2 separate regions of the Homo sapiens genome follow, and region 2 is reported to be linked to region 1. The links are microRNA targets in miRTarBase. Many come from high-throughput screens and were not tested one by one. Region 1 holds a microRNA gene; the other region holds the end of a gene's coding sequence.
The links. The annotated mature microRNA hsa-miR-4483 reads GGGGUGGUCUGUUGUUG and lies in region 1 at 2,171-2,187, shown strand. An mRNA with a match to its seed (bases 2 to 7 or 8) in the 3' UTR can be bound and repressed. Matches are read on the target gene's strand: a 7mer-m8 pairs with bases 2 to 8, a 7mer-A1 pairs with bases 2 to 7 and ends in A, and an 8mer does both.

Region 2: the mRNA of KLF16 is a reported target of hsa-miR-4483. Seed matches in the 3' UTR shown: 7mer-m8 at 3,469-3,475.

What each region holds. Positions count from the first base shown.
Region 1 is chr10:113,775,803-113,780,186 of GRCh38, reverse strand. It overlaps MIR4483 (microRNA 4483), which reads left to right and starts at 2,133; the gene lies at 2,133-2,194. PLEKHS1 (pleckstrin homology domain containing S1) reads right to left here. Exons shown (of 13, transcript NM_001395068.1): 11 at 4,321-4,384; 12 at 2,928-3,063.
Region 2 is chr19:1,850,686-1,855,069 of GRCh38, forward strand. It overlaps KLF16 (KLF transcription factor 16), which reads right to left. Exons shown (of 2, transcript NM_031918.4): 2 at 1,714-4,075. The coding sequence ends at 3,774. Among named protein-coding and RNA genes, the nearest start is that of REXO1, 4.4 kb to the left of the region's middle. RefSeq lists enhancers at 3,256-3,812, 3,813-4,370, 4,371-4,384.

The DNA of each region.
Region 1 (4,384 bases):
TTCTCCCCTTCCCTTGAAAATCTCAGTTCTCTCCCCTCCCAATCCCTGCCCCATCCCCACCCCAACCTCCACTTCCCTCATCTGTAGCATAACAGGAAGGAGAGTAAATGGGATTGGCTCAGGCACTTTAAAACATCAAGGGCCAATGGCTGTTCTTCCTTTGGTTCCATATCTCCCTTTTCCAATATTCTTTTTCCTTCCAGGGACTATGTGTTTGAATTTTAAAAGAGCAGTGGATACCCATCAACACAAAGAAATCAGGAATGGAGGCAGTGGGAAAGTAAGGGAATTTTCTATCTTCCAGATAATCATGAAGATGAATACTGCATATTTCTCAATAGCATGTAGGGGCTGTTATCAATTAGAAAGGGAAGGCAGAACGAGCACAAGAGAAATGCAATGACTCCACAGTCTAGAAAGGCAGTCAGGATAAACTGCAGTCAGCAACACCCAGGTACAGTTCCTGGATCTGCTCACAGGCAAAAACCCTTTTCTTGGCTTCTGAATTAATGCCTGGATCTTTGGGTCAGAGTAGTGTTTGGTAACTTTCAGAAGAGTTCAGAAGCTTATATTGACCACTTGGCCCCAGTGTATGTGGATCCTTTTTTTTTTTTTTTGAGACAGAGTCTCACACTGTTCCCAGGGCTGGAGTGCAATGGTGCAATCTCGGCTCACTGCAACCTCCGCTTCCTGGGTTCAAGCTATTCTCCTGCCTCAGCCTCCCCAGTAGCTGGGATAACAGGCACCCGCCACCATGCCCAGCTAATTTTTTGTATTTTTCATACAGACGGGGTTTCACTATATTGGCCAGGCTGGTCTCGAATTCCTGACCTCATGATCTGCCCACCTCCGCCTCCCAAAGTGCTGGGGTTACAGGTGTGAGCCACCACACCCAGCCCAGTGTGGATCTTTGGCAGAGAAAATGTACTATAGTTACCAGATTGTTGGACTAGGGCCCTGAAATCTACTTCTTTTCCACCATGCAGTCTCCTATCCAGTCTTCAAAACCTAAGCCAAACACCACTTTCTTTGAGACACCTTCCTGGCCTCCTTCATGTAGATTTACTCCATTCTACCTCTGTGATCCTATGGCCCTGTGTTCATATCTCAGGGCACACACTGTATAGCAAGTAGCACATAACATGCCTGCTTCATCCACTAATCTGTGAGCTTCAGCTCAGGCTGAGGCCATTTTTGTAGCTCTTGAATTTAGCACAGTATACAGCACCCAGCAGATGCTCAATAAATAGTGAATGGGCCGGGCGCAGTGGCTCTCGCCTGTAATCCCAGCACTTTGGGAGGCCGAGGCGGGCGGATCACGAGGTCAGGAGATTGAGACCACGGTGAAACCCTGTTTCTACTAAAAATACAAAAAATTAGCTGGGCGTAGTGGCCGGCGCCTGTAGTCCCAGCTACTCAGGAGGCTGAGGCAGGAGAATGGTGTGAACCCGGCAGGCGGAGCTTGCAGTGAGCCGAGTTTGCGCCACTGCACTCCAGCCTGGGCGAAAGAGCGAGACTCCGTCTCAAAAAAAAAAAAAAAAAAGAAAGTGAACGAATGTGTACTTGCCCTGCCACTAACTAGTTATATATCTTAGACAACTCATTCACTTATCCTCACTGGAATTACTCATTTAGGGTAATGAGTAATAGGGATGGCACAATTTGTGTGACCAATGGGATTATTACGTAGTGCAGAAGAGATAAGATGTGTTCTTAATATAGATATGCTACACAATCACAAAATTCCTAGAGCTGGAAGAAATTTGGAAATCATCTAATACAATGGTTTTCAGAAATTTGAAGCCAAAGAACTGTTTTTTAAGGAAAGCTAACAGGAAAGTCCAATATTTTGGACTAATCTTTTTTTCATAAAAGATAAAAGATAAATGTAAGCTTCTCCAGTTGAAGACCCAGCATACTCTCTCCTTCCTCTCCTCTCCTTTCACCTCCATCCTGGGGATGCAAGAAGCACAGTTTGAAAACCAGCCTCTCACTTTAGTGAGAATAAGCTGAAGCCCAGAGAAGGCAGTGAATTTCCTAAGGTCACAGGGCTAGTTAGAAAGAAAAGTAGACCAGGGAAGGAATTAACACATGAAGACTGCAGTGATATGCAGGACAATAGCTAGTCCTTGAAAAAACAACATACTTAGTGCATACCCATATAATATTAGGGGTGGTCTGTTGTTGTTTTTCTTTTGAGACAGGGTCTCGCTCTGTCTTCCAGGCTGGAGTGCAGTGGTGCAATCATAGCACACTGTAACCTTGAATTCCTGGGCTCAATTGATTCTCCTGCCTTGGCCTTCCGAAGTGCTGGGATTACAGGTGTAAGCCACCGTGCCCAGCACCACATATTATGTTTAATTCTTGCAATATTCTATGAGGAAGTTAGGGCTGTGACGATTTCTGAGATAATGAAACTGAGGCTTTAAAAAATGGGCTTGAATAACATTCCATGGTCAGTTGTAGTAGAAGTAAAAGTAACTAGTAGCTTTATTGAGCACCTAATATGTGCCAGTCACCTTTGTAAGCACGTTACACATATTACCTCATTTAATTATCCAACAACCAGCACCATCATTAGTCATAATTTTACAGAAAAGAAAACTGAGGCACAAATTGGTTGAAGGAGCTGTTTTGGAATCCCTGCACCAGTCTGATTCCATGCAAGCTCTTTTTGCTACATCATGCCGATCTGAGGTCCTGAACCCAGGTGCTCTGTCTCTTAGCTCAGTGCCTTCTCCAAATGCTACTTGATATGAAAGAATCCTGAAAGAGTCCTGAAAGCACATTCTGTTATTTGCACTTGATGGTGGAAGAATGAGGAACCTTATTTGTATTCAGGGTACTTCTCAGACTCCATCTAAGACCCTGATCTTTTTCCTTCTGGTACTGATTTGCCCTGTTCAGGGCTGGTCAGTACGACTCACCTCCTTCTGGATGGACCGGGTAAGAAACAGGGAGACCTCCTCCAGGCTCTGGGGTTTCAGGTCATTCACTGCCAGAAGATGATCTCCGTGGCAAAATATGCATCCCAAACGTGGGGGGCCTTCCCACTGAGACACACTGCAGTGGGAATACAACATCCAATACCAGTGTGAGGCTCAGCTGGCCAGGAGGGCAGGGCACGCAGGGTCTCCTGATTCTAGGTCACGTGGCACCACCTCTGAAGTAGACTATCTCCTTCTGTTTAGAATATTGTTTCCTCTGTCACTACAATAGGAGCCTAACCCTTCCTCCAAAGCCCAGCTCAAATTATACCACCCTTACAAAGGCCCATGAAATCCTACATCCCATTCCTCTGCTATAATTCATCTCCCCTACCCCTGGACTTCTATTACATTGTGTGAGTACCTGATTTGTTACATTTTTAAATAAAATGCATTTTACATTTACTTGTTTTTGTGGCTGTCTTTTTCTTACCAGGTTACATGACCCCAGAAGTATGATGTCACCTTTTTGTTTGTTTTGTTTTTTAATTTTTAAAACCCCATGGTTCCAAGTAAAGAAAGAGTGCTCAGCGTTTGTTGGAAGTGAGGGTGTAATGATTATACAATGAATATATAATGAACAAATAAATGAATTAAGGAATGTAGCAGCTCAGTTATGGAGGAGTCCACAGTTTCAGTCAAGTGTGTATTGAGCCTTAGATTGTGGACTATTTAAAAAAATGGAAGGTGTGTTTCCTCCCTTCTTAGAACTTATAAGACAATTAATGTGTAGTGTTTACATTAAAGAGTTTTCTTCCCTTATGAAGATGAAATCTTCCATCAAAATAAATTACAAAGTGTTTTAAAAAAATGCCATATCAAATAGACAGTGATTGCTTTAAGAAAATTCTCTGCCACACAGTCTTTTGTGTCTGTGTCTGTGACTAGCAGTTTTTGTTTTTTGTTTTTTTTTAACCTTGTGTCTGGAAGTCTTAGAAGCTGATGTGCTTTCTTCTTTTAGGCCTCTGATTCTTGTTGACTTCACTAATTTCACTCATTCATCAAATACTCATTGTACAGTGATTGGAAATGATGTCCTTGGGCCACCTGTATCCCAGCCCCTTCTTCCTCCCTTAGAGGAGTCAGAAATGGCTGCTTCCTGAACTTTTGGGTCCTGTTATTCCCCCTGCTCACCTCCAGGCTGACTTTTCTGCACAACAAGACCCTGATTTCTGCCTCAAAGATTTTTTTGTAACAACAGCCAGTCAACAGTCCAAGCTCCCCCGCCCCAAACCTAGTCAGTGTTGCCAAATACACTGTTTCAAGATGTAATTGTTCTCTTCAAAGCTTCCAGCCCCATTTATAATCCACAACAGTCAAATCTCCAACCTACCATATCCGTCCTGTGGCTTCTGTGAGAGCAAGATAGTTGATGACATCAGGAGGAGAAAGGAAAA
Region 2 (4,384 bases), not on the chromosome of region 1:
ACTCCAGCCTGGGTGACAGAGTGAGACAGTGTCTCGAAAAAATAAAAGATAAATAAATAAATAAAAGATGATGAGGGAGCCAAGCAGGCTTCTGGAGGAAAAGCATTCCGGGCAGAGGGCACAGGCCATGGGCAGGACTGCGCCTGGTGTGTTGGAGGAACAGCGAGGAGGCCAGTGTGGCTGGACCAGGGTGAGGAGGGGGAGAGAGGCAGGAGGGAAGAGCAGGGAGAGGACGGGGCAGGTCATGCAGAACCCTATGGGCCTCAGGGAGGACTTGGGCTTTGACTGTGAGGGCAGTGGGAGCCATGGAGGGTTGCGGGCAGAGGAGGAACCAGACTTGCCCCAGGTGTTCACGGACACCCTCTGGTGGCCGTGGGGAGGACAAACCGTGAGGAGACCAGGGCCAAGGTGATTGCACTGGTTCAGGTGAGTCGTGAGGAGGCTAGACCGTCGCGGTGGAAGCCCTTACAGCAGGGAAAGGCGGCCAGATCCTGGATCTATTTTGAAGGTAGAGCCCAAGGAGGTTTCAGATGGGCCAGATGTGGGTGGTGAGACACACAGTGGGGTCCAGGGTGACTCCCCAAGGATTTTGGCCTTGCAGGATGGAACTGCCCTCGACCGAGGAGGGGGCATGGCAAGAGCAGCCTGCGGGTGGGAGGGACGCCCGGGAGGGTCGGGGTCCCAAAGGCACCAAAAGGATGGTGCTGCTTCTGGGCACGTGTGTGTGCTGGGGGTGGGGCGTGTAATTTAAAAGCCTAATGCGAGTGTGTCCGTCAGAGAGAGGGGTGAGGCTGCGAGTGTAGACCCCATATTCTAGACATTTTGCTCCAGAGGGGCAGAAAACCAGGCAGGAGCTGGAGGGGTGCGAGAGTCCCGGGAGTGATGTTTGTGGGGCGTCCGGTAGGATGGGAGGATGGGTCGGGCAGGATTGGGGGTGCACGAGGGAGGCTGCCCTCGAGTAAAGCCGGGAATTTGCCGCCCAGGTTGGGGAGGGGTCTGGCGTGAGCCGGCGCCGGCCGCGCGATACGAGAGGCCGACCACCCCCTTCCCCGGGCGGGCAGCAGGCGAAGCCCCAGGGCTCAGCAGGTGTGTAGGAGTGGCCTGCCCGGCCCCATCCCAGCCCCGCCGGCCTCCAGGCTCTGGGGAGCGCTGGAGTCCACAGTGGTTTTTTCCTGGGGAGGGCCTCAAAGCTCTCACCGCCCCCTCTTCCCTATTCCCACTAGGGGAGCTGGCATACAGTAGGCGCTCAATACAGGAGCACAGGAGCCTGGGAGGCGGCCGGGGGACCCTCCGTGGAGGAGCCTGTCCCGCGCCGGCGAGCAGCCCCGGGGGCGCAGGCTCCCCCATCCCCTGCGGCACCGGAAGGGGCGGGCGGTGGACGCCCCCGGGCGCCCTGTCACTGTGCCTCGGTTGCCAGGCAACGGGGCGGGCGGGAAGCTGGGCGGGGGGCGCAGCTGCGCCAGGCGTGGGTGACACCCGGCGGGCGCAGCGCGCGCTGCTGCAGGCAGCCCCCTCCGCGGGGCTTAGGGCTAGGGGCAGGGCATTTTGTGTCTCAGCCAGAGGGGCCTGGCCAAGACCCCCTTCACTAGCCCGCTGCCTCGGTTTCCCCACGAGGTGGATGAACTTGGGACCACACTGGTGGGTGGGACAGAGGGATTCAGAGCGTGCCCACAGGTGGGGACTGCCACGGGAGAGACCACACACACGCTGGAGTAGGGTTTAAAAAGGGGCTTGTTTAATTAATTAAATACAAGGATGAGGCCAGGCAGGGCGGGGGAGGGGCGCCACCCACGGAAAGCACACGCCTCTCGGAGCCGCCTCCCCTGCAAACGGCTGGAACCAGGTCCCAGTGATCAGCGACTCCTGGGAGAGTGGAGGGGTGGGCGCAGGTCTCTCCAAGCCCCTGGACACTGGAGAGGGGCCCAGTTATAGAGTTCTGGAACCCACAGCCCTACCTACCCCTGCTCCAGACAGGCCCCTGCCAGGGCTGGGGCCAACCAAGACTCACAAAGGAAAACGGGGCCCCAGTCCCCCACCCACCCCCACAGACTAAGGCATCTCACTAGCGCTGCCAGAAGAGGGTTTGAGGCTAGGGACAGAGAACACAGAGAGCCGAGGGCTGGATGGGGCAGGACCCTCCGAGCCCAGCTCCAGAAGGGCGTCCCCTGCCTCCCTCCCCCCAGGATCCCAGGCACCCATCCCTGGATCCTGCCAGGCCGGGGCTGGGTCCAGGTGCACACCAGTGCCATCCAAAGCCCCCCTGTCCCCAAGCGAGAGGCAGGACGGTTCTGGAACAAAAGGGGGTACCAAAAACCTCCTGCAGCCAACAGTGGGGGGATCCACCTTTCTGGGTCTGACATGGAACCGGGGACCCTTCTCATTCCAGGCTGGGGGTCCTCAATACCCCCCCCAAGAGGAAATGCAACCCAGGCCACAGCAGGACGACCGCTGACAAGGACACAAAGGTGGCCCCCGAGGAACAAGTCCCCACCCCACCCAAGTTCAGCTCAGAGACCCCCCACACACACTCACACCCCCTGAGGATGCCGGACCACCCATGGGGGCCCAGAAAAAAAGGAATCCGTGCCTGAAAAAATATTCTACCCGGTGCAAAAAAAACGAGCTACCCCAGGAGGCTGCACAGCCAGCCCTCTGCTTCCAGTCCACGAGGCAAGACCTCAACCACGGGCCAGGACCCACCTCTTCCAAGCACCCAGGAGAAGGAGGGGAGGCCAGGGAAGCAGGGCCGGGCCAGGCTGCAGCCCAGGCCCGGAAGAGCCTGCAACCCCGGCGGGCATGGGCTCCACGGCCCCACCTGCAGGCCAGGGAGGGCAGCGCAGCCCAACAGCCGCAGTCGTCGTTAAGGGAGAGTTGATTGTCACGTGATACCGCAACGGCCAAAGTCAGCAAGGCAGGGACTGGAGGCCCAAGCCCGGTGCCAGCCTCCCCTGCAGCCTCTCTCACCCACCCACCCAGAGAGGGCGAGCTAGGGCCCCCACACCCGAGGACAGAGGAAAATAAATAAGCCAGGATTCCCTCCCGACCCCACTGAGTCAAATGTTCTTTGGAAGAACCCAGAGGTCCCCTCCCTCCCCATCCCAGGTCTCAGAAGCAACACCTGGAGCCCCTCCGGGCATCCTAACGCTGCCCCACTCCTGGCTCTACCCCCGAGGTCTGGGGGGCCAGGCAGCCCCTACCGTGGGCAGAACTTGTGGACACCTGAGATTGAGTACCCGAATGGGGGGTGGCTGGGCTGCACCCCCATTTCCCTGAACTACTCCCATGGCTTTCGGTGGGGTGGGGGTGGGGTGGGGAGAGGCAGGGGCCGTGTCAACCCCCGACTCCTCTATGGCTGTCTGAACACTTCATCCCAATCTGCAGGGATGGGGCAGGGGGTGCTTTCCCCGGGCCGGCTCCCAGAAGTCCACTCCACCCCCCCAAACCCCACCCCGGGAGGGGGGCAGCAGGGGGTGGTGGAGAGGAGAGGGGAGGACCTCCTAGCTGCCCTGGGGGGGCCCCGTTGCACAGATGGGAAGAAAGTTAGTATCATGGCTATTTACAGACACAAGCCCCCGTCACCCATCCTGAGAGCCACCTCTGAGGTCAGGCAGACCCAGGTCCAGTCTCAGGCCCCCTCCTCACTCTCTGGAGGGGGGCAGGGGTGTCTTCAGGGTTTGCCCACGGCTGGAAGGGGCCCAGGCTCCCCGTGGGTCCTCACTACACCCCTGGATGGCAGAAGCATCCTGGCGGTCAGGGTGGGCTGCACGAGGGCCCTACAGGCCTGCGGGGGCTGGGCTGGGCGCGGGGCTGGGCGCAGGGCTCCCGGCCAGGCTGCAGGGCAGCGAGTCGCTGGGGGAGGTACTGCGGGCACCAGGGCGCCGGAGCAGGTCCGGGTGGAAGCCGGGGTGGCGGCGGGCGTGCTTGGCCAGGTGGTCACTGCGGGTGAAGCGCTTGGAGCACAGAGGGCAGGAGAAGCGCTTCTCGCCCGTGTGCGTCCGGTGGTGGCGGGCCAGCTCGTCGGAGCGGGCGAACTTCTTGTCGCAGCCCTGCCAGTCACAAGCAAAAGGGCGTTCCCCTGGACGGAGAGACAGAGACAGACAGCGGGTCAGCGGGGGCGGGGGGAGATGACAGACACGTTCCAGCAGATCCCAAAGGGTGGCGGGCATTTGTCCCGTGCCGTTTTAGAGGCTGAGCTCTGGTGTGAGTTCAAAACATGGAGAAGCACAAAGAATACAACCCTTACCCGCCCCCCGGTGGCCCAACACGAGACCCTAATAAATAATCCTCTTATTTCCTACCAGCTCTTAGAAAGGACTCTCCGGCGAGCCCAGAATCTGTTAACCGTAAGTAACCGCCGCAGACCCCCAAGGCTGAAGCTCCCCAG